Homo sapiens: one gene and its partners. The protein of the gene in region 1 purifies or fractionates together with the protein of each later gene. This does not show direct contact. Each region holds a gene or a part of one and is shown in the gene's direction. Other genes may lie near its edges.

Region 1 (3,500 bases):
CTTTCAGAAAGTTGCATGCCAATCTGAAACCTTATCTATATTATATTACAGGCTGACCTCTGTGTCCCTAGACTGAATGAAGGGGACCAAGTTGTACTGATCAATGGTCGGGACATTGCAGAACACACTCATGATCAGGTTGTGCTGTTTATTAAAGCTAGTTGTGAGAGACATTCTGGGGAACTCATGCTTCTAGTTCGACCTAATGGTGAGTACTCTATGTAGTACCAGATAATTTATAGTAATTTATTACTGTTCATTACTGAGCACAGCAGCCAGATTTCTGACATAAAACATAAGTCACCTAAGTTTCCTGCTCAAAGCACAGTGGCTTTCATTGACACGTGGAGCAGAATTCAAGTTCTTTGCCCCCCCACCCCTTGCTCCCACTCAGCCTTGCTTACTTTCCTCTATTCTACACTAGCTTTCTTGCAGTTACTCAGATCTTCCAATCTAATCGACTTATTAGGGTTTTTATCCTTGCTGTTCCCTGTGCTGACATACTCTTTTTGATTTTGTTATGACTTATACCTATACTTCATTCAGGTCTCTGCTCAGATATCATCTTCAGAAGGGCTTTCTCTCCTGACTACCATAGCTAAAATGGTCTCCCATTTCCCCTAAATGGTAATAGTTGTAGTACTAGTACTCAATAAATACTAGTTGAATGAATGAGTAAATTTGAACTCTGTTCCACTTTTAGAAAATGCCATAACAAGCTATAGTTAAAGTGTTTTTAAAATACTGCCTTTGTTTTCAGTATATGATGTCTACTTGCCTAATCATGTCATCTCCCAATCTGGACAGCTGACTTGTTAATTCATAGTCATAGAATTCCAGGTTTGGAGAAAACTTGAATGCCGTAAGCTCTAGCTCTTTGGCTAATTGCACGAATTTCCTCCACAACAACCTCAAGAACATTCTACCAATATAGATAGAGCACTTTGTGGCTCCTGAAACAGGTCATTCCATCTTTGGATAGCTCAAACTATAAATTGAACTAAAAGTCCATCTTTCTTCAGTCCTGCTCCTAAGTCTGTCACTCTGTGCTATGCATTATAAGTTTAACCCCCTTTCCTTCAGTTTTTTGACAATAGCTAATTTTACCAGAAACCCACCTCCCTTTCTCCAGTTTAAGAGTCCTAGAGTCTTCAGCCAGTGTTCATATGGCATTGTTTAGAGTTCCCTCAACACTTTATCAGTCTGCTCTAAGAAAAAAGTTTTATATGTCTAATATCCCAGGATTAGACATATTCTTCTGGTTTTGTTCTATACAATTTACTATTAATCATTATTTTAGCCACAGAATAATTATTGTTAATGCCATATTACCACTTGAATATGTACCATAGGAAAGTGAAATATCATTCGAATTCTACTTGTCACCACCACACCCAACCCTGCAAAATTTTGCAAGGATATTTCTTTTTTGTAAACAAAAAATAAAAAATCCTCTTTGTACCTCTTGTTCACAAATAGGCGTTTTCATTTTATCTTCTCCACTTTGTGTTCTTTTCCATTAATGGTCTAGAATTGGCTTTCTAGGAAGATTAAAAGGACTTCAACAGAACATTCTATTTTGACTTTTCAAGGAACTTGTTCATTTAGACTTGATACTTAGGTGAGTCATTAGGTGTTTTCTGTCACATACAGCTACTTAAATTTTAAACCAGGAATAACATTTTTTTCTGTATTTATTGTATTATATTTTCTCTTGATAATAGATCCTAAAGAACTCAATAATATTAGCTAATAGTTATTAAAAACTTTCTGTGCACCTAGGCTCTTTTGTATATTTTCATTTAATCCTCATAGACATCCAATGAGATTGATGAATTATCCCCATTCTAGAGCTGAAGATACTTTGACACCAAGACATTCAGTTACCTGCTCACAGATTCATGACGCCACAGAGCCAGAATATGAACAAAAATCCATATGATGGCAAAGACCCAGCCTTTTTACAATTCCAGATCTCATCCTTTTGCTTTATAGTATGAGAGGAACCCACCAGGGTCTACTTCTTGCAAAATATCTTTCTAAATTGTTTCATAGTCAAAATACGGAGCAGAACCTGCATCTGTTTTCAGTGTGGGTCTGTCTTTTCCATTCTTAAAGTTTCATATAATTAAAATTTAAAACTGTGTTTGCCAAGAATATATTTTTGTTTTTCTGATCTTTTCTCCTTTAATTCTTATTTCTTCTTAGGCAAAATGTTGTCATACCTTTTTGTCTTTTCATTCTTCATTTCAGAAATTTATTTTTCTAAAAAAATGTATAGATATTCAAGGAGGAACCAGATCTCTTAGGCAAGGGTAAAGAGGCCCCTACCTTGGCTCCATGTTTTAGAAGGCCCTGCTTTGGCTCTCTTTCTTCTCCCAGTGGAGTCATAATTTTATAGGACCAAAAGGACATGCCAAGCTGTAACCTCCCTTCCCTTTCTATACCACTTTTTTTCAAACCTCAGTTCTGGGTCCAGATAACCCTGAGCCTCTCCAGATCTTCATGGGTATTTTCCACACATCCGTTCTCTCAAGGTGGGTTCACATGGTGTGTGTATCCTAGCCCAGAAGGTGGCTAAGAGGCTACAGTTTGTGGAGGGACAGGTATAGATATATCTTGCATGTGGGCTGGGATCTTCACATGTATGTTTATAAGCCCCTATGTTAAAAAATGGGACTGAGAGTGGGTAACGGTAGAATACAGGCCTAGGATCTAGGGTCTGAATCTCCTCACATTACCATGACCATGAATTCTGGCCTAGAATTCTCATTTATAGTCTGGCCTCCCAGGTTGTTTTGTAGATACATCACAGAAAGAGGATGAAGCATATTTTGTTTAGCACTGTGTTCAAGTTTTTTGTAACTTCTCATAGTTAAACATATGGTATATAGGTCTCTATTTGTACTCTTGCCCTAGGTCCCCTACAAATTAAGAGCGGGTGTATTCACAGCTGCTTCTCAGCAGCTCTTCTTTCTTACTGTCTCTTCAAGTTATAGACATTTTCAGCAATGTAGCCAAGAACACTTCTTCCCTCCAAAGGTACAGCAAAGCCCCTCAACTCCACAACTAGTTTCTGTCCCCCCATAGTGACACCAGACTCAGATCTGGTGTAATTCTTCACAAATGAATTATTTTTTGAACAAAACATTATACAGTGTATCTGGTAAATTCCTATCGTGTGAATTCATTAAGATTTCCACGTTTTGGGGTTTGTTTGATTTTTTTTTTTTAGCTGTATATGATGTAGTGGAAGAAAAGCTAGAAAATGAGCCAGATTTCCAGTATATTCCTGAGAAAGCCCCACTAGATAGTGTGCATCAGGATGACCATTCCCTGCGGGAGTCAATGATCCAGCTAGCTGAGGGGCTTATCACTGGAACAGTCCTGACACAGTTTGATGTAAGTAATATCATTATATATTAAAAGCATTTTGCTGATATTTGCTAACTAGTTTCATAGTTTCTTAAGTGCCTAATCTGTGCATTATAATTTCTAAA
Region 2 (3,500 bases), on another chromosome or scaffold:
ACAACTGTGCCTGCTAATTCATACCTGTTACGTGGTCGGAGTTGAGCTAGTCAATTTTATGAACGTTTGCAAAAGATATTTGGTACTTTTTTCTGAAAAGAATATGTTACATTTTTCCTGTAATTCCATACAAATTTTTGATAGTGCACTAAAGAAAATCCATATGACAAGAGATTGTGGAGTAATTAGAGTTTAGTGTGAAGGTGGTAATTTGGTAGTCTCTACGTTCCCAAGAATAGTGTCATTTGCACTGGAGTAACATTCATGGCCAGGGATGTGCAGATAATAGATCAGCTGAGATGGCAGTGAACTCTCAAACATGTTCAAGACTCCTAAGTGAATTGAAGTAGAATCTTGTCTGGAGAATACTGATAGAGACCAAATCCTACTCTGTGGCTTTACTGTCTCTTAGAAGCATTTACAGCTTAGTAAGTGTCCTATTGATGACCTGCGAGTGATTGGGGAAGCTCATGACAAGCATCACTGTTCCTCTCCATCTCAGGCTCTAAAATCTAAATCTTTATTAGGATGTGTATTATTTGGAAGGTGCTTTGGGAGCTTAAGTGGAAAATTGAAATAATTCTAAAGTTGATAATATGAAGGGCCTTTGTTGAGCACAGTAATTTGGGAGATGAGTTGGGAGGACATTTTTCATAATATATTGCCCTATTGGGCAGTTGGGTAGCTCAGCCCTTTTTAACTCCCATCCCTCGCCAGTTCAGCATCTCTCTGTTTCATGGGAATGATTGTTAATAAAGAAATTGGATCCATACTAGAAAATGACCATTTCCTTTTGAATTAGCCTTTTTCTTGTCTCCTTTTCGTATCCTTTTTATGGGTCCTTTCTGGTATGGGCCTTCTTTCCCATCAACAACTTTTCACCTGCTGACATGTTAAAAATTGCTTGCACAGGGAAGTTACTATAAAAATCAACATAGCAAAAAGAGTTAATTGCCCATCTAAATCCCCCACCTAAATTAGTATTTTTTTTGTCACTTGGTCCTCTGACTTTTATTAATTATTTTCTTGTTTATTCAGTTCTGTTCACATTACTTGTGTCAGTAGAGTTTTGAGAACTATTTTGAAATCACTTGCAGGAAAGAAGTGCTATTTGAACCTCATTCTGATTCATCAAGCCTCTGACAAGTAAAGCAGGAGTTTTCTCTTTTGACAGTGTGATGCTTGATTCTTGTGAGTCTTGGCAAGGATAGATCTGAACAATTGAGGGAAGGACAATTTCATTTTCTGCCAGTGGGCAGCCTTTTCAAATGAAATTAAACTTGATCCTCAGTTTTGAAGTGATAGTTGCTTTTTATTAAAATTTTACAGAGGGCAGCTGTAGAAGATATAAACCCAGCAGATGACCCTAATAATCAAGGTGAGGATGAATTTGAAGAAGCCGAGCAAGTGAGAGAAGAAAATTTGCCAGATGAAAATGAAGAGCAAAAACAAAGTAATCAAAAGCAAGAGAATACAGAAGTGGAGGAACATTTGGTGGTAAGCAGATGCCACGAGGAAGGGTGGATTTAACTGGGCTATTTTAAGAAACATCTGGTTTATGTAAAAGGTTAGTCATATTCCACATTGACGGAAGGTTTGCCACTTCGGTGGTTTTTAGGCCACTTTATGACATGATATGCCTGTACTCTGAGAGAGAGGGTAACGGACATCCTGGGCTTTGTATTGGGAATGATTACTCATCATTTCCTGGCCACAGACGCTTTGAAAGTGCCCTTTTCATGGTGGCATGCTTGTTCTTTGTCCCAGAGTACTGTGTAAAAGGCATCTCTGATGTACAGTAACATGAACCTGCCCTTTTGTTTCCAACAGATGGCAGGAAATCCAGACCAGCAGGAGGACAATGTTGATGAACAGTACCAGGAAGAGGCAGAAGAGGAGGTAGTAAGGATTGAATCCCAGAGACTGATCAGATTGGTCTGTCACACACACTAACCTTAAACAAACCTCAGCAGTATTGACTTTGACATGCCTTCCACAGAAATGTTCAGAAAAATTTAAGCAGGATAAGAAAGGGTGGTTTAAAGCAAAAATGGATCATGGCACTGGAGACATTTGGTTAGAAGATAACAAAAGCAGGGTAATAGAATCCATCTCTTTGGTTCTCACCTGAAATTTTGAATTAAGAAGGCATTTGGCTTTCCAGGAATGGTGGACTTAGATTTGTGCAATCTTTTGTAAGAATATTTTCTCCTCTCTCCCTCTGCACATTGAGGGAATCTGGACTGCCCCTGTAACTTTCTCTTCAGGCATCTCCCCAGTGCCTACCTCACAGGAATACCCCATAGTGTCTATCGGAATCCACTTAACACCCTCCAAACATTTTTGTAAATTTTACAGTCTCTCCTTCTGGCCTCTTCCTTCTTAAGAATTCAGTATCTTAATTAAATTTAACAATAAAAGAGGAGGAAAAAGATGTAAAGAGCTCAGCTGAATAAAATGCATTTGGATAGAGTTTCTTAATATTTTAGTTTGCTTTTCATTGTAAACTTCGGGCATCTTGTTGTTAATTAGATATAAGTAGCGTTTATTGTGGTGCTGCTTACGGTGTAGTTGATTATTGTGGTGCTGCATGTGGTGTAATTGGTGAATGCTGCTTGTTGTAGCCGTTTTATCACAGCATTCCGCTGCATAAACAACTGCAATATTTAAGAGTCTGATACAAATTAGGCCAAGACCCTGTATTTAGTCTCATTATGGACCAGTAAGTAGTTCCCAAATTAAAACCCTGGTTCAGAGCTGCTTCTCAGCCAGGTGTCTTGCAAATGTGTGGTTTTATCCCTATGGGGAACCCCATGGGAGGATGGACATATGGCAGACTGAACAGACACACCCCATCACTGGAGATCCTGTGCAGAAATCATGAGCTGTGCTCTCACACACACAGTTCCCTCGACTAGGTCTGCTTTCTTGTTCTTACTGATTTTGTAAGCTTTTCAGAGCTGATGATAAAATTTGTGCTTATACCAGGAAAACAGAAAAGGATGTTGCTCTTTAAGGTCACTGGCAACATTTCTAATAACATGCACTTTAACTGGCTTGATCTTTTTGTTCTTTGGTTTCTCATCCTAATCAAGACCCTTGGCTGTCTTGTCAGAAAGAGAGCAGCAGAGAAAATAGTGACCTTGAATATTAAGACATTGGGCAAGAAAAAGATATTCATCCAGGCTTCTCATATAACAGGATGTCTAGACTAATACCACTTTGTTTTATTATGTCCAATACTAGGAATCTTTGAGGGATTAAAAGAGAAAAGTTCACCTTGGCTTCTTTTTTAAAAATTCAGAAGATTAAACATAAAATTTTAACCAGTGTTTACTGATTCCTTTTCAATTTTATATTATGATCAGTTAAGGTACAGGAGAGAAATCCTGAGATCCAAGAGGAATCAAGAGTAGAAAGAGAAGAAAGAGGCAAGAGGAAAGGAGAAATGGTGCTAAGACAGAGGAGGTTGCCCTGGCTGAGTGCTGCCTAAACTCAGC
Region 3 (3,500 bases), on another chromosome or scaffold:
CAGGCACATATCATATGATTTAAAGGTACAAGGCTATCCCAGCCTGGCTGTAGCAGTTTGCTTATGCAGGGTGGAGTAGTTACACACAAAAGTGAGCCAGTAGGTTAAGTATATAGCTTTAGAAGTTAAACATCTTAGATAACTTGCCATATTACTAGGAAACCACAAGAAGTTTGACCAGAGGAATAAAAAGGAAAAGACACCACCAGGTATGGAGAAGCTGAGTTAGGAGACCCTATGAGGTGGTGCCCTCTAAAGAGGAGCAGTAGACAGTGACAGGAAAGAATGATTCAAGGACCCTTGAGACATACCTTGACTAGGTAACAGGTAAGAAAGTGAGGCAAAACTATCATGGGCTTCACGCCTCAGAACATATGGTCTTGTCATTAACAGAAAATAGGAAATCAGCAACATGATGGGGGAAATAGGATTAACTCATTTTTTTAACAGAGGAGGTCATGAGCGCAAGAGAGAGGTCAGGACTGCCAGGTAGATTTGGGAGTCCCCATTATAAAGGAAGAGATAGTCAAGTATCTTATTACAGTGAGATTAAGGAGATGCAGTCCAGTACAAGACCTTAGGATTTGGCCATCAGGAGATCATTTATTATTTGAAAATGAAAACCAGGTTGCCACAGCTTAAAGTTGAGGCACCCAATCTGGGGGCTCAGATGTATAATTGGTCACAAAGGTAGTATTGGAGAGATTTTAAAAAGCCTAACAGAAGTCTTACGTAGAGCTAAATAAACAAAATGTATGTTTCTTTTTTCCTGAAATCATACCAATCTAATGTTGGATTTTATGCAGACTAGAAGTTCTAGTGTGCATTAAAGATGGATTTAATCGATTTTAAATGGGAAAGTACATTATTCCTTATTCTTAACATCTTCAGCCCTATGGAAGCATTCATTTCAGTGTTCCTGGGAACGCACTTTGGCAAATGTGTGAGATAAAGATGTAAGGTTGCCTAGCACCAAGCTCTGTGATAGGCAGAATCAGGCTTTTAGTCGCATGATGTCCAAATAACTGCAACACTCATGGGTTACAGAGTGTTTTCGTGTACATTGCCTCAGCTGGTCTTCTCAGCGCTCATTGTAACATCTCCCAGCTACCTCTCATTCAGGAAATAATTAGGCAGTCTCCTTTTAACTTTGCATAGTCCTAGCCATTAAGAGTTGCTTTAGGATTGATCTGGAAGAATTTGGCACTTTCTTTTCTTCAGCTTCTATTAAGAAAATTTAAATCTTGCTTTTAAAAATAAAATCCATTAGTAAAATCACCTTAGAAGGTGTTTGTGCCATGTCTATGTCTATGGATTTTTTTATATGATTGTGTCACATCTGTGACAATTCAGTTACCCAAAGAGTAATGATGCAAATATGCATAATAAATATTTGAGGCTTGAAGTGGATTTTTGACACAGACATATTTCTGACTCTTGTGTTTCATTATGTACATTTCAGTGAGTTGCTTATTGTAATCTAAGTATCATTAACTAAAAATATGAAAAGCTCATTGCTAAAAACATTTGGAGTATTTGTCAGTGTCCTGTGCTGCTTGAGAGCTTTGAACCTAGACTGCTATCCATGAACTGTGTGTGTACTTCATGTTTTTTAAAGGTGTATGTCGATGTGTGTTGAGAAATTTCTCTTGAAGTAAACAAAAATCATGAGCAACATTAACCTGCAAAGTTAATTGAACACTTTTTTAAGAGGGCCATTCTCTTTGCCTTCCATACTAGAAAGTTCCTAGAAATTTAAAACACATTTTAAAAGATAAGAGACAGAAAAACAGATACCAAAAAAGAACTGGGGAGGAAGAGTTTCACACATAAAAAACATCAAATTTAAAACAGCATTTGTTAATCATCTGAGCTAATTGGATATGCTGAAACGTGATGCCGATCAGTACCCTCTGCTGAATAGTTTGGGTAGAGCCTGTCCGAGATGGAACAAGTGCCACCAGTGGAATTGGTTCCCACCTTGACATTGAACTCCATTTGCAAAGCCTGTCTTCCTATTGGCTTTTGGTATCATTTCGAGGGTCCCCATTCCCCAGCAGCTGCTACCTTTGAGAGTCCTAGAGGCAAAGATCAGTCTGCTCTGAACACTGAGGAGATTTTGGCATCTTCCACATTAAGGGGAACCAGCCAAGTTTTGCTGTAACCTAACTATTAAGAAGGCCCTTTCAAAGATATAAATGTTTTGTAGCTGAGCCCCTGTTTAAGGAGTCTCCCCCATGTCCTCCCCTCCTCTGTTCCAGGACCGGCCACAGGCCATTAGCAAAGGAGAGCCAGAGAAGAAAACTTTGACTCTGACTTTCCCCCTAAATCTCCCAGACTCTCAGAGGTGATATTCTGCGCTGGGCTTTGGAGATACGGGAGAAGTGGGCTATGTTCCTGTTAGAAGGCACTACAACCCCAAGGCAAGAAAGGAATGGAGGACAGAGCCCAGGCACTTGAAGCCAAGAATTTGGAGCCAGAGAAGGAACAAAAGTCATGTTGGTCCCTACTTCGAATGCAGAGGATGATTTGAGAGTATTTATTCTCCCTTGTTCATTCCCATGCAGTTGAAGCTAAAACTCTTTGTGATGAATGTTGAGCCTCTGTCCTATAGAGGACCTCCCCTGCTTAACTGCGAGTTCCTCAATGTAACTGTGTCTCCTAGGTCGTATAAGAAGGCATTGATTATTTATTTTACAATTAGGAATTTAGGCAAAGCCCTTAGATTCAGAGATGCATTGACTTTTGAATTGTGACTTTAAAAATAATAATAATTGATCTTTTTCACAAATGTGTATATCCTAGATGATGCCAAAGATCCCAAATCACTAAGGGCATCCAGTTCATTGGCGGTGCAAGGAGGAAAAATTAAGCGGAAGTTTGTGGATCTGGGGTAAGCACTTCACGATGTAAAAAGAAAGCCCTCTGTAAAAGGAGGATTGAAAGAGAAAATTTCAGCTTCCCCTTTCTGACTGCTTACTATCATTACAGGGCGCCTTTGCGAAGGAATTCCAGCAAGGGAAAGAAGTGGAAAGAAAAAGAAAAAGAAGCCAGTAGGTTTTCTGCAGGTAGCAGGTACGGTTGTGTGATTAAGAACACGTGTATTTCTATACCTAAACTTTCTGGCCCCCTCTTCTATTGTTAACCAAAATCAGTGGTCAGTATCTTTGAGCTAAAGTGATATGCCAAGAATTGAGATGGAAGAAAAATTGCACAATTAGTTTATATTGGTCTTACTCCAATTATAGCCTCCATCTAGCCTTGGGCATATCCATTGGTTCTTAATTGCAGAATTATGGCCACATGAACCATTTCAATAAGTGTTTATCTAAATTCAGCACAAATATATCTATGTGATACTTCAGAAATATCAAATATATTTATGTGATACTTCAGATTTTTTGCCTGGCTACCCACAATGCTAGTGCATTGTATTAAGTCTAAAAGGATAATCATTTTGCATTTAAGTACCTTGTTGACATTCAAGATTGTCTTGTCCA
Region 4 (3,500 bases), on another chromosome or scaffold:
CAGCCTGCCAGGTACTGGACAGATACAGATGCATGCGGCACCCGGTGCAAAGGTGCCGAACAGCAGATGCATCCTAAAGTCTTGAATGTCTGTCGTTTGTTTGACAAACAAGTCAATGCCGTGAGTTGTTCCAGAATGCGTGGCATTTTGTTTTGTCATAGCACAAGGTGCTGATAACCACATGCTGGCGTGCGTGGGAAAACATTTTGTCTCTCTGCATATGTTATGTGTTAGAACTAGGATCACACTAACTCACGTATCCAGTTGCTTTGTTTGTTTTTCATAATAATGGTCATCCCTCAAAAATTTTGTTCTTCATCTAAATACTGTTATAGCACTTAATAAAGATTAATAGAAAAATGGGACATTGGCCAGGCGCGGTGGCTCATGCCTGTAATCCCAGCACTTTGAGAGGCCAAGGCAGGTGGATCACGAGGTCAGGAGATTGAGACCGTCCTGGCCAACATGGTGAAACCCTGTCTCTACTAAAAATACAAAAATTAGCTGGGCATGGTGGCATGTGCCAGTAATCCTAGCTACTTGGGAGACTGAGGCAGGAGAATCGCTTGAACCTGGGAGGCAGAGGTTGCAGTGAGTCAAGATCGTGCCACTGCACTCCCGCCTGGTGACAGAGCAAGACTCTGTCTCAAAAAAAAAAAAAAAAAAGAAAGAGAAAAAAAGAAAGAAAAAAAAAGAAAAATGAGACATTAACCTGAATGTTGAAATGCTGATAAGACCCAGTCTTTTTCAAACACCTGTAGACACAAATACAGACTGAAAACAATCCTCCCTCTTTCTAATTTATAGAGTCAATGCCATTATATTTTGGGACTGGGAAAATAACAATTTGTAGTGTCTAAACGTAGATGTTTTACTGTCGTGTTTCAGATTGTGGTGCTTTAAAATTATGTCCTCACATCAGGTCATATCCCTTCATTTTACTGTTATATGAGCCAAACCGCAAAAGCTAAAAATAATGGCAGTGCCGGGATAAAGCTGGTACACCCACAGCAGGGCCCTCCCGGAGAAGTGGGTTTCCCTGCCCTCCTGGTTACTGCACGAGGTCCACGGAGGACTCTGAGGCTCAGGTGGCTTTTTTGTCACTGGCCTCATTATACACCTGGAATATGGAAGCTGGCTACTCTTTGGCCTGGGATAGCCTGTGCATTGGGGATTCACTAGAATCAAGGCAGAATATCTCCTTTACTAGATCTGACAATTGGATCGGTCAGGGACAGAAGATATAGTGCATTACAAACCCCTAGAGATTCATATTGACCGTGAAGACTTCAGGCTTTCCTTCTCTTCTAGCTGGAAGTTGGAGGGAGCTATTTATTTATTTACTGATTTATGTATTCATTCATTTATTTTTGAGACAGAGTCTTGCTCTGTCGCCCAGGCTTCATCACTGCACACTGCAGCCTCTACCTCACAGGCTCAAGCGATCCTCCCACCTCAGCCTCCTGAGTAGCTGGGATCACAGGTGCACACCACCAAGCCTGGCTAATTTTTATATTTTTTGTAGAGATGGGGTTTCACGATGTTGCCCAGGCTAGTCTCCAACTCCTAAATTCAAGTGATCCTCTTGCCTTGGCCTTCCATAGATATGAGCCACCAGACCTGGCCAGTTGGAGGGATTTATAATCACCTGAAATTTTCTTTACTCCTCTGGTTACTGGAAATTGCAGATTTAAGTACCTTTTAGAAAACTGGTAGGAACCTATGAGAGTAAATGCTAAGCTGAAGCAGTGACTCTTTAAAAATTAAGCCATTTGTCTTTAGCAAGTAAAAATCAAGACCTTCTGTTATGTTGTTGACAGAGGACTATATCGTTTCCTAATTATTTAAAATGAAAGACCACCTTCTGAACCATATCTTTAGATAAGGTCTAAATACACCGTAGGTAATACTTTGTGACTCCCTTTCATTCTACTTATTACGATACTAACAATGCCGCCTCTCTGTCTAAGATAAGGTATAGCCAAGCTGACTTCAATGTCTTAAACAGGAAATTCGTTTTGTAGAAATAATTCGGAGCTCAAAGTCTGCTCTTTGTAGAAGTGATGATGCTAAGTGTCCTGTGCCGACTCTGCTTGTTGAGTAGCTGAACAGCTGCCTGCCTCTGTCCTAGACGTGCTTAGGGAAAAAGAAGCCCTTTGCAAAATGATGTGACACTTGGCAGAAAGTTAACGTAGAAACTTAGCGGTGTGCTTTTGTTTGTTGGTATATGTGTTGCTGACATTTTATTTTTTTCAGATTGCAGGCCTCTGCTCACCAAAAGGCCTTAGCCAAGGACCAGACAAATGAGGGCAAAGAGCTTGCTGAGCAAGGAGAACCTGATTCCTCCACTCTAAGCTTGGCCGAAAAGTTGGCCTTGTTTAACAAATTGTCCCAGCCAGTCTCAAAAGCGATTTCTACCCGGAACAGAATAGACACGAGACAGAGGAGAATGAACGCTCGCTATCAAACTCAGCCAGTCACACTGGGAGAGGTGGAGCAGGTGGGTGTGCTATAGTCCGATTGCAGTTTGTGTGTGTGTGTTCTTAAATTATAGCACTGCAGTATTCCTCTGAGGTCAATGATGTAATTAAGGTGCTCTACCAGGAAACTGCTACCTGTAGGTGATTTGGTAATAGCTTTCTTCCTAAAAATGAGAATTCTACCAAGTATGTTGCTCTTTTTTTGTTTTCATACCTTGCTTGCTGAAATATCTAGAATGAGTCCATTTTGGAGAGAAAAAAATAGTATGCCCAACTGTGTTTCACCCAGAGGATTTTGTTTAATGAGACGTATTATATAACTATGTCCAGGAATGGTTTTCCACTAAGAGAAACAGTGAAACTGCATCAAATCGAGTATTTCAGCTTCTGTCAATTCATAAACCAGGATTTATATAGATGATATTTTTCAAGCAGCTTTTTAATTTTTAACTGTGTCCTTCCAGGTGCAGAGTGGAAAGCTCATTCCTTTCTCACCTGCCGTGAACACATCAGTGTCTACCGTAGCATCCACGGTTGCTCCAATGTATGCCGGAGATCTTCGCACAAAGCCACCTCTTGACCACAATGCAAGTGCCACTGACTATAAGTTTTCTTCTTCAATAGAAAATTCGGACTCTCCAGTTAGAAGCATTCTGAAATCGCAAGCTTGGCAGCCTTTGGTAGAGGGTAGCGAGAACAAGGGAATGTTGAGAGAATATGGAGAGACAGAAAGCAAGAGAGCTTTGACAGGTCGAGACAGTGGGATGGAGAAGTATGGGTCCTTTGAGGAAGCAGAAGCATCCTACCCCATCCTGAACCGAGCCAGGGAAGGAGACAGCCATAAGGAATCTAAATATGCTGTTCCCAGAAGAGGAAGCCTGGAACGGGCGAACCCTCCCATCACCCACCTCGGGGATGAACCGAAGGAATTTTCCATGGCTAAAATGAATGCACAAGGAAACTTGGACTTGAGGGACAGGCTGCCCTTTGAAGAGAAGGTGGAGGTGGAGAATGTTATGA
Region 5 (3,500 bases), on another chromosome or scaffold:
GCATAGCTAAAACTTTCTGAAGTATGAGCAGTTAAACTGTCTCATATCTCAGTTATTTTTTAAACATATAAACCTTTGACCAAAATCTCTATTACTATGCAATTAAACATGAAAGAGGAATTAAATAAAATGTTAGTTACTTCTGACCTAGTTCAGCAGAAAATAATCTTGTTTTCTTCACAATGCACATTAGCACTTAAGCCACGAGAGACAGGAATCTAAAAAGTAAAGCGATACTAAAAATAACCTTATTGAATACGTGGGGAAGATTTGATAAAAGTACTAATTTGGTTCTTAAAGATAATGGGGTTGTTATTGAGATTCATTGATTAAAAGGAACAAATTTAAGCAATTATAAAACTGTAAATTTGGAGAATTTCCATTATATTTTGCTAGTAAAATTAACCTAATCTAGATAGATTAAGAGAGAAATTCCTTGAAATACTTGAAGAGAGTCATAGGTTAGGTTAGATTAACCTAATTTTACCCAAGTGACAGATCTTTTGCCATATTTGCCTGTGGCCAAAGAAGACTTGGTTTACTTAGTCTGTTTTGTGATCTTTGAAACTTTAATGTAACTTCTGAACCAGCTTTTGCTATTTAGGGGAGGTCAGATGGGACACTCTTGTGTAGGCATCCCCACATCATCTTTATATAGGCTTTCACTAGATTTTACAGTTGGAGTCTTGACTCCTTGCTAGGAACATCACAGAAGGTTCCAACAAAGAGAGCATTCCTCCTTACCTAACATCTCTTCTTTCAGGATAATGATCAGGTCGAGTGTGATTTGTCTTTTTTTTCTTTTCCCCCTCTCCATTGAAGTTACAAGGTCACCAGTTGAAAATGACGGTTACATAGAGGAAGGAAGCATCACTAAGCACCCTTCAACCTGGTCGGTGGAAGCAGTGGTCCTATTTCTAAAACAAACAGATCCTCTTGCATTATGCCCTCTTGTCGACCTCTTCAGAAGCCATGTAATGTATCTTTTGATCCTGTTTTCCTGCTGTAATGCCTTTGAATGACCTCTGTGCAGGTCTTTCAGTTGGATACTGTGTGAATGGTGGGAGAACCCTATTAGCTGATTTTTCCATATATGAGAAAGCTTATTTTGCCCAAGGTTAGCCTTAAATGGTAGGCTAATGGTCTGTTCTTTAAATGGGTGTAGAAGTGCCTAAAATACAAACTGCCTCAGCTTCTTAAGACATGATGATTCAGCATGGCCACTCAGGTGTACCTCCCCTTTGTAATGACAGATACAAAGATCCTCCCCCTATCTGCTCCCAGCTGGGCACCAGGACCACGAGGAGGAGGGGGTAACCACAAGCTATAACAGGGTGGCCTTCGTTTTATATAACCAGTGATTCAACAACTGATTCCATTTGCCTCGATTATTGATGATTTGTAATGCTAATACCCTCTTGCTATTATCAGACCATTTACAAAGTAATATCCTAGGCCGAAGTTTTGTAAGTTCTAGTTTCTTTAATTTTGAGTTTTACTTAGTAGAAAAAGTATAGAAGGTGCCAAACAAAGGTTGTACTATAAGGGATTTCAGACCTTTTCAGATAGTGTTAAATGAGTAAATAAAATTTTATTTTTTAACTGGAACATATAAAACCAAATCATATGCTTCAGCAGCATAAGTTGATCAATTAAGATAAGGAATTTTAGGAGAATGCTTTGTGACTATGTTTTATTTATTCAGATATTTTCACAGTGTGTCCTAACAAAATTAGTAGCCACATATCTGATTTTTAATATAGTAAGAAAATTGGTGATTAGTTTTAGCATCTAATTAGTTTCAGACAACTAATTGGCATTCATCATAAAGACAACATTGTATAGACATTTACAGTTTGCACTGATGTTGACGTACTCATCTTCCCAGCCCTTCTCAGAAAGTTAATGAACATCTGAAATTCATTTTTACTATTCATAGTCTTTACTATTTTGTCATGGATGTGTAGTATTTTATTCAACATACAGTATATATTTAAAATTAAGTTTGACACAGTTTATTTTTTAAGATATTATGTTAAATTTCCTTTTTCTCAGAACTTGAAATGAGTTTATACATTACCAAACGGTGCTTCACTGTACAAGTTATATTTTTAATAGTTTTCATAAAGTAGACGCATATTCAGAGAATATACATCTGCAATGAGCTGCTCTCTAGTTTGCTTTACATGTTCTCATAAAGAACTAACCATTCTGATGAAAATATGGAAGCATTATTAATTATCGTTAAGTTTCTTCTCTCCATAGGAAATTGACGGGAAGGCTCTGCTCCTACTCACGAGTGACGTGTTGCTGAAGCACTTGGGGGTGAAGCTGGGAACGGCTGTGAAGCTATGCTACTACATTGACCGACTTAAACAAGGAAAATGCTTTGAAAATTGAAAAAATCCTTGTGCAAATTTAGATTGGGCCAACTTCTAGAGGCACCAATGCCTTCTTAGTGTGGAATCATTTTTCTGCCCTTTAGTCGTTTTTGTTTTGTAGAAAGTATCTCTCAAAATATATTATAGCTAGAATTGTAGAACTATGTTATAGTCCAGTCTACTTCTTTAAAAACCATTTAAACTGCTAGATAGTATTAGAATAGTCCAATAGAAAATTCATTCTTTATAGGTCTTTAAAAATTACTTTTATTATATTGTTTACAAATATATTTCATGCAAGAAACAGAAAAAAAAAAAAACCCTTTGATTCTGGTTCATCTCGATACAGAGAACCAAAACAGCTAAGAGAGGTATTATCAGGGTTGACAACTCCTATGATTGAATCTATGGGAATTATTCCTCAGAAGAGAATTTAAAGGTGTACCCATATATATCTCTTTCTGGAGTATTTTATCTGTCTGATGTTGCAGTATTCTACAAGTTTCCAGAAAGAGAATAGCCATATAAATTATTTTCCTTTCTGCTATTATTTCTCTATATGTTTTATTTATTCAGATTTAGAGTAAAAAATAAGCATATAAACTTTTATTATGTGCTCTTAACAGTTTTAAGATAAACTATAGGATAGATAGAATGGTTATTTTATGCAAGAAATATTGTACCGCAAGGGTGGTTTGGATGAAGTCTGACTACTTTTTTTCAAACAAACTATTATATTAAAACTGTCATATTTTGGCTAAGTTTGGACCTATAACTACACTTTCATTGTTTGCATCTCTCTATGAAGATACGTCTGTCCAAACTTTTAAAAGGCATAACTGTATTTTATGTGTTTATTCTTTATATAGATAGTATTTTATATTTTATTCTCACCCGAAGTATTCACACAATCTTTTTAAAAAAAATTTGAAATGGCATTTTGTATTGCCACAGAGGTAGGATGAGCCATATATTAGTGAAATGTTTTATTTTGTAAAATATAAATGGATTATTTGCCATCATTAGTACCTCTCAACTTACTTTTTAGAGGACAAGAAACAATCTGTAGATTGGTTTCCATACAGGGAAGTTCTCCGTCCTATGCAATGTTTCTAATTA
Region 6 (3,072 bases), on another chromosome or scaffold:
CACCGCCAGGGAAGAGAAGCCCAGAAGGAAGGCCGCAGCACTGGCAAGGACAGAGGTGAGGCTACAGCGAGTGCTAACCAGACTCAGAGATCATGGAGCAAAGCAGAGAGGAGCAGCTGCTCATCCTAAGTTATTGAATTGATTGGTCCCTGCTCCCCTCTTTGGTTCAAGGGGCGCTGAGGAAGGGGCCTGGACACAAAGACCTCTGTGCCCCGAAGAGCTTGGGATCCAGAGTGCTTAGAGATCCTGAGATGAGGGCCCTGACCCCCAGTGAAGCCACCAAGGGGAAGGGTCTGGTGGGCCCCGAGGAATTTAACTGCTATTTTTTGAGGCATGAAAAGGATTTGGAGAGGGGGAGCTGAATTCATTTGCTTTTGTCTGTCGCTAGCTCTGGGGGCCACCGGGGAAGGAGGAGGGAGCCCATCCCATGGGAACGGCCTGAGAATTCCCACTTCCCCAGAATCCTCTCCTTCTCAGACCCTCCAGATGGTGGCTTGGACAATGGCAGCAATTAGCATGAGAATCGGTCCCCCACACAGAGGATGAGGTCATTGGCCTGGGGTGGGAGGAGGAGGCTAGCCTAAGCCTTGTGTGGGTGTGTGTAGGGCAATGTCCGACTGTGTGGGAATCTGCTTCTATGTCTGAGCTCTGCTGTGTATCCCAAATACAGTGTGACTTTGTGTGACCAAGTGTGTGATGTCTGTGGGTATGTGACTGTGTGATTTCACCCTGAGTGTGGCTTTTGTGTGACAGTGTCAAATGAAGAGGAAGCCTGCAGGGCCTGGATGGTGCAAGCTCAGCCTGAGTTGTCCCCAGCTGGCTTGCTGCCTGCAGGCCTGGGGGCAGAGGGCTGACCCCACTTTCCCTCTGTCCTCTCCAGGACCCTCCTGGAGGCTGAGAACTCCCGGCTGCAAACACCTGGCGGTGGCTCCAAGACTTCCCTCAGCTTTCAGGGTAAGAGGAGGGGCCAAGTTCCCCCAGAAACTACCCTGCTTTGCTCTTCATACCCAGACCTATCTTTCCCGAGAGGCACCAATCTAAATTTCAAGTCCGTGGCCTCCAGTGTCAGTGAGCATGCTCTCAGCCCAGCCATGGGCGCCAGGGGCAGGCGCATGGATACTCTTGCCAGCGGTGGCTGCTCTGTGGCTCCCCTCATTGCCAGTGATATACTGATGCTGTTTCTTCCCCCTCTGCCTTTCCAGACCCCAAGCTGGAGCTGCAATTCCCTAGGACCCCAGAGGGCCGGCGTCTTGGATCTTTGCTCCCAGTCCTGAGCCCAACTTCCCTCCCCTCACCCTTGCCTGCTACCCTTGAGACACCTGTGCCAGCCTTTCTTAAGAACCAAGAATTCCTCCAGGCCCGTACCCCTACCTTGGCCAGCACCCCCATCCCCCCCACACCTCAGGCACCCTCTCCTGCTGTAGATGCAGAGATCAGAGCCCAGGATGCTCCTCTCTCTCTGCTCCAGACACAGGGTGGGAGGAAACAGGCTCCAGAGCCCCTGCGGGCTGAAGCCAGGGTGGCCATTCCTGCCAGCGTCCTGCCTGGACCAGAGGAGCCTGGGGGCCAGCGGCAAGAGGCCAGTACAGGCCAGTCCCCAGAGGACCATGCCTCCTTGGCACCACCCCTCAGCCCTGACCACTCCAGTTTAGAGGCTAAGGATGGAGAATCCGGTGGGTCTAGAGTGTTCAGCATATGCCGAGGGGAAGGTGAAGGGCAAATCTGGGGGTTGGTAGAGAAAGAAACAGCCATAGAGGGCAAAGTGGTAAGCAGCTTGCAGCAGGAAATATGGGAAGAAGAGGATCTAAACAGGAAGGAAATCCAGGACTCCCAGGTTCCTTTGGAAAAAGAAACCCTGAAGTCTCTGGGAGAGGAGATTCAAGAGTCACTGAAGACTCTGGAAAACCAGAGCCATGAGACACTAGAAAGGGAGAATCAAGAATGTCCGAGGTCTTTAGAAGAAGACTTAGAAACACTAAAAAGTCTAGAAAAGGAAAATAAAGAGCTATTAAAGGATGTGGAGGTAGTGAGACCTCTAGAAAAAGAGGCTGTAGGCCAACTTAAGCCTACAGGAAAAGAGGACACACAGACATTGCAATCCCTGCAAAAGGAGAATCAAGAACTAATGAAATCTCTTGAAGGTAATCTAGAGACATTTTTATTTCCAGGAACGGAAAATCAAGAATTAGTAAGTTCTCTGCAAGAGAACTTAGAGTCATTGACAGCTCTGGAAAAGGAGAATCAAGAGCCACTGAGATCTCCAGAAGTAGGGGATGAGGAGGCACTGAGACCTCTGACAAAGGAGAATCAGGAACCCCTGAGGTCTCTTGAAGATGAGAACAAAGAGGCCTTTAGATCTCTAGAAAAAGAGAACCAGGAGCCACTGAAGACTCTAGAAGAAGAGGACCAGAGTATTGTGAGACCTCTAGAAACAGAGAATCACAAATCACTGAGGTCTTTAGAAGAACAGGACCAAGAGACATTGAGAACTCTTGAAAAAGAGACTCAACAGCGACGGAGGTCTCTAGGGGAACAGGATCAGATGACATTAAGACCCCCAGAAAAAGTGGATCTAGAACCACTGAAGTCTCTTGACCAGGAGATAGCTAGACCTCTTGAAAATGAGAATCAAGAGTTCTTAAAGTCACTCAAAGAAGAGAGCGTAGAGGCAGTAAAATCTTTAGAAACAGAGATCCTAGAATCACTGAAGTCTGCGGGACAAGAGAACCTGGAAACACTGAAATCTCCAGAAACTCAAGCACCACTGTGGACTCCAGAAGAAATAAATCAGGGGGCAATGAATCCTCTAGAAAAGGAAATTCAAGAACCACTGGAGTCTGTGGAAGTGAACCAAGAGACATTCAGACTCCTGGAAGAGGAGAATCAGGAATCATTGAGATCTCTGGGAGCATGGAACCTGGAGAATTTGAGATCTCCAGAGGAGGTAGACAAGGAAAGTCAAAGGAATCTGGAAGAGGAAGAGAACCTGGGAAAGGGAGAGTACCAAGAGTCACTGAGGTCTCTGGAGGAGGAGGGACAGGAGCTGCCGCAGTCTGCAGATGTGCAGAGGTG
Region 7 (3,500 bases), about 93 Mb from region 1:
AAGGAGTATGGGATTTCTTGTGCCGGTTCCTTCACATCCTCACTACACTTATCTGCCTTTACAGTGGCTCGATCATAGTTCACTGCATAGCCTTCTGGGCTCAAGGGGTCTTCCAGCCTCAGCCTAATATAGGCACATGCCACCATGACTGGCTAATTTTTTTTTTTTAAGTTTTTTTTTGTAGAGATAGGGCCTTGCAGTGTTGCCCAGGCTGAGGAATTTTATTTATGTTTATTTTATTTATTTATTTATTTATTTATTTATTTATTTATTTATTTATTTATTGAGATGGAGTCTTACACTGTCACCCAGGCTGGAGTGCAGTTGCGCGGTCTCAGCTACTGCAAGCTCCGCCTCCCGGGTTCATGCCATTCTCCTGCCTCAGCCTCCCGCGTAGCTGGACTACAGGCGCCCGCCACCACGCCTGGCTAATTTTTTGTGTGTGTTTTTAGTAGAGGCGGGGTTTCACCATGTTAGCCAGGATGGTCTCGATTCCTGACCTCGTGATCCACCCACATCGGCCTCCCAAAGTGCTGGGATTACAGGTGTGAGCCACCATGCCTGGTCTAGAAATTATTTTATATTTTATACCATTGCCTTATAAGTTCTCAAGCAACTGGAAAATACAATCAGAACGTATTCCTCAAGATTTCAAGGATATTTTACACAAAGTTCTATTGTCTGATTCCTTAGCAGTTGTTACTACTGTTTCCCTAACCTCTAATCTTCTATTGGGTTATTAGTCTTAGAATTGAATTTTGAGAGGTAAGGGCTTGAATTTGAACATAGAAATTTATACAGGTCTGATCAGTAGTTCTTGACATTGTATTATCTGGAAACAAATCTTTAGAACTGAGCTTAAGATGTTTAATGACATTTTGTAGACAGAGTATGATTTCAGTGTAGTTGTTTTTGTTTCTTTCTAGATCTAGTTCAGAGATGAAGTATATCAACTTTTTTTTCCTTTTTGACCCAATGCTAGCAGAAAAACAACACCTTTTAATCATATTTAGTATTTGAAAATGTGTATACAGGTTCCTTTTTATTTTATTTATTTCTTACAGGTTCCTTTTTAATCAGCTTTATTGAGATAGAGTTCATATACTGTATGGTTCATACCACATATGGTTCATATACCATACAGTATATGAACTCACTTTAAGAGTATAATTCAGTGGGTTTAAGGGTATAATTCATTCATTTTAAGGGTATAATTCAGTGGCTTTTAGTATATTTTCTTTTTTTTCTTCTTTTTTTCTTTTTTCGAGACAGGGTCTTGCTCTGTTACCCAGGCTGGAGTGCAGTGACGCAGCCTCAGCTCACTGCAACCTCCACCTCCCAGGTTCAAGCGAATTCTCTTGCCTCAGCATCCTGAGTAGCTGGAACTACAGGCTCACGCCACCACACCCAGCTAATTTTTATATTTTCAGTAGAAACAGGGTTTCACCATGTTGCCCAGGCTGGTCTCGAACTCCTGGCCTCAAGTGATCTGCCTGCCTCAGCCTCCCAAAGTGCTGGGATTACAGGCATGAGCCACCGTGCCTGCCTGTTTTGTAGTGTATTCAAACAGAGTTGTACAACTGTCACCACAATCAGTTTTAGAACCCCAAAAAGAAACCCTGTACTCTTTACCAGTCACTCCCTATCTTCCGTCCACTAACCCCTGGCATCCACTAATTTACATGACCTCTATGAATTTGCCTATTCTGAACATTTTATAAATGGAATTCTAAATACACTACCTTTTATATCTGGATGCTTTTACTAAGCATGTGTATTTTTGAAATTGACTTTAAAGCTTGTTGGCCCCTGGAAGAGTAAATTACTCTCCACCCCAAGTATTCCCTCTACCCCTCAGCTTTGCCTGTAAGTTTCTTTTTAAAAAAATCACACATACATTGTTGTAGTAGATTTAAGAATAAGTATTTTGCTGACCCAAGGTTCTTTTGCTTCTTTCTAGATCAGTGCCTTGCAGGTTTTATTTTACAGAGCTTAATAGAATCAGAAATCTCTTTAAAACTCCAGTCTCATATCCAGTTATCACTCACCATCTCTGTGTTTGCAGCAATAGCCAGGCCTGGCCCAGAGGGACTTGATCTCCACTTTTGGTTTTTAGACTTTTCTGTGGCTTTTACCACCTGCTGTGTATCCTTGACCTCATACTGCTGGACTCCTTTGGATGGATACCAGCAGGATGGTTCAGGCTCCAGTGGGCACTTTTTAAAATTCTCTCCTTCTGTTCAGATAGACAGAGCTCAGGCAGATCACCAAGTCTGTTGCCTGTGTAACCAGGAAAGAGATGCTAGTTTTCTTTTAGGCACTCCCATTTGTTTCTGTTGGAACCTTCCTCACTTAGTTGATGGAAGGGAAGCAAAAGACCCAGAACTCCATCTCAAATTAATGACTTAACAATTCTTGAATTTTCTCTTATCTCCTAGTTAACTCTTTTTCTTATCTCCAGGAGGTCAGTTTTAATTATTGTTGTTTATTCATTTATTTTCATGGAGACAGGGTCTTACTGTGTTGTCCAGGCTGGCCTTGAACCCCTGGCCTCAAGGAATCTTTTCACCTCAGCCTCCCAAAGTGCTGGAATTACAGGCATGAGTCACCACACCCAGCCTGATATTTTTCAGTTGATGTATCATAGTTGTGCCTAAGCATAATTTTTTAATTTTAATTTTTTATTTTTGGGGACAGGGTCTCCCTCTGTCGCCCAGGCTGGAGTGCAGTGATGCGATCTCAGCTCACTGCAACCTCCACCTTCTGGGTTAAAGCGATTCTCCTGCCTCAGCCTCCCGAGTAGCTGGGACTACAGGTACCCACCATCACACCCGGCTAAATTTTTTGTGTGTATTTTAGTAGAGACGAGATTTCGCTGTGTTGCCCAGGGCGGTCTCGAACTCCTGAGCTCAGGCAATCCGCCTGCCTCGGCCTCCCAAAGTGCTGGGATTACAGGCATGAACCACCACGCCCGGCCAAGCGTAATATTTTTAAGGGTCATCAATGTTGTGTCATGAATCAATCAGTGTTTCGTTCTTTTTTATGGTTGAATAATATTCCATGGTATGGATTTGTCACATTTTGTTTATCCATTCATTAGTTGATAGACATTTTGGATTTCCACTTTTTTTTTTTTTTTTTGCTATTATAAATAGTGATACTATGTACAAATTTTTGTGTGGAAATATGTCCTCATATCTCTTGGTTATATACCAAAGAGTGGAAGTGCTGGGTCATATGGTAACTACGTGTTTAACATTTTGAGAAACTGCTAAACTGTTTTCCAAAGTTGCTGTACCGTCGTACATTCCTGCCAGCAATATATGAGGATGCCAGTTCCTTCACATGTTCACTACACTTATCCACCTTTTTTATAATAACTAATGGTGGGTGTGAGATGGTATCTCATTGTAGTTTTGATTTGTATTTCTCTGATGGCTAAATGGCTAATGATGTTTGAACTTTTTGTTTGAGACAGAATCTCACTCTGTCCAGATTCA

Evidence for each region.
Region 2: the proteins of PTPN4 (region 1) and GOLIM4 purify together in Homo sapiens (affinity purification with mass spectrometry; one large-scale study listed by BioGRID and IntAct). This does not show direct contact.
Region 3: the proteins of PTPN4 (region 1) and PPP1R9A purify together in Homo sapiens (co-immunoprecipitation; one large-scale study listed by IntAct). This does not show direct contact.
Region 4: the proteins of PTPN4 (region 1) and SVIL purify together in Homo sapiens (co-immunoprecipitation; one large-scale study listed by IntAct). This does not show direct contact.
Region 5: the proteins of PTPN4 (region 1) and SCML1 purify together in Homo sapiens (affinity purification with mass spectrometry; one large-scale study listed by BioGRID and IntAct). This does not show direct contact.
Region 6: the proteins of PTPN4 (region 1) and NES purify together in Homo sapiens (co-immunoprecipitation; one large-scale study listed by IntAct). This does not show direct contact.
Region 7: the proteins of PTPN4 (region 1) and PPM1G purify together in Homo sapiens (affinity purification with mass spectrometry, with the first as the bait; one large-scale study listed by BioGRID). This does not show direct contact.

The regions. Positions count from the first base shown.
Region 1 is NC_000002.12:119,951,922-119,955,421, forward strand, and holds part of PTPN4 (tyrosine-protein phosphatase non-receptor type 4), read left to right. Parts: intron 1-51; coding exon 52-208; intron 209-3,235; coding exon 3,236-3,402; intron 3,403-3,500. UniProt on the Homo sapiens protein: Phosphatase that plays a role in immunity, learning, synaptic plasticity or cell homeostasis. Regulates neuronal cell homeostasis by protecting neurons against apoptosis.
Region 2 is NC_000003.12:168,022,925-168,026,424, reverse strand, and holds part of GOLIM4 (Golgi integral membrane protein 4), read left to right. Parts: intron 1-1,329; coding exon 1,330-1,497; intron 1,498-1,830; coding exon 1,831-1,899; intron 1,900-3,500. UniProt on the Homo sapiens protein: Plays a role in endosome to Golgi protein trafficking; mediates protein transport along the late endosome-bypass pathway from the early endosome to the Golgi.
Region 3 is NC_000007.14:95,271,094-95,274,593, forward strand, and holds part of PPP1R9A (neurabin-1), read left to right. Parts: intron 1-2,805; coding exon 2,806-2,893; intron 2,894-2,991; coding exon 2,992-3,075; intron 3,076-3,500. UniProt on the Homo sapiens protein: Binds to actin filaments (F-actin) and shows cross-linking activity. Binds along the sides of the F-actin. May be involved in neurite formation. Inhibits protein phosphatase 1-alpha activity.
Region 4 is NC_000010.11:29,523,472-29,526,971, reverse strand, and holds part of SVIL (supervillin), read left to right. Parts: coding exon 1-11; intron 12-2,256; coding exon 2,257-2,500; intron 2,501-2,944; coding exon 2,945-3,500.
Region 5 is NC_000023.11:17,750,993-17,754,492, forward strand, and holds part of SCML1 (sex comb on midleg-like protein 1), read left to right. Parts: intron 1-822; coding exon 823-974; intron 975-2,265; coding exon 2,266-2,400; 3' UTR 2,401-3,500. UniProt on the Homo sapiens protein: Putative Polycomb group (PcG) protein. PcG proteins act by forming multiprotein complexes, which are required to maintain the transcriptionally repressive state of homeotic genes throughout development.
Region 6 is NC_000001.11:156,671,336-156,674,407, reverse strand, and holds part of NES (nestin), read left to right. Parts: intron 1-880; coding exon 881-954; intron 955-1,202; coding exon 1,203-3,072. UniProt on the Homo sapiens protein: Required for brain and eye development.
Region 7 is NC_000002.12:27,399,592-27,403,091, reverse strand, and holds part of PPM1G (protein phosphatase 1G), read left to right. Parts: intron 1-3,500.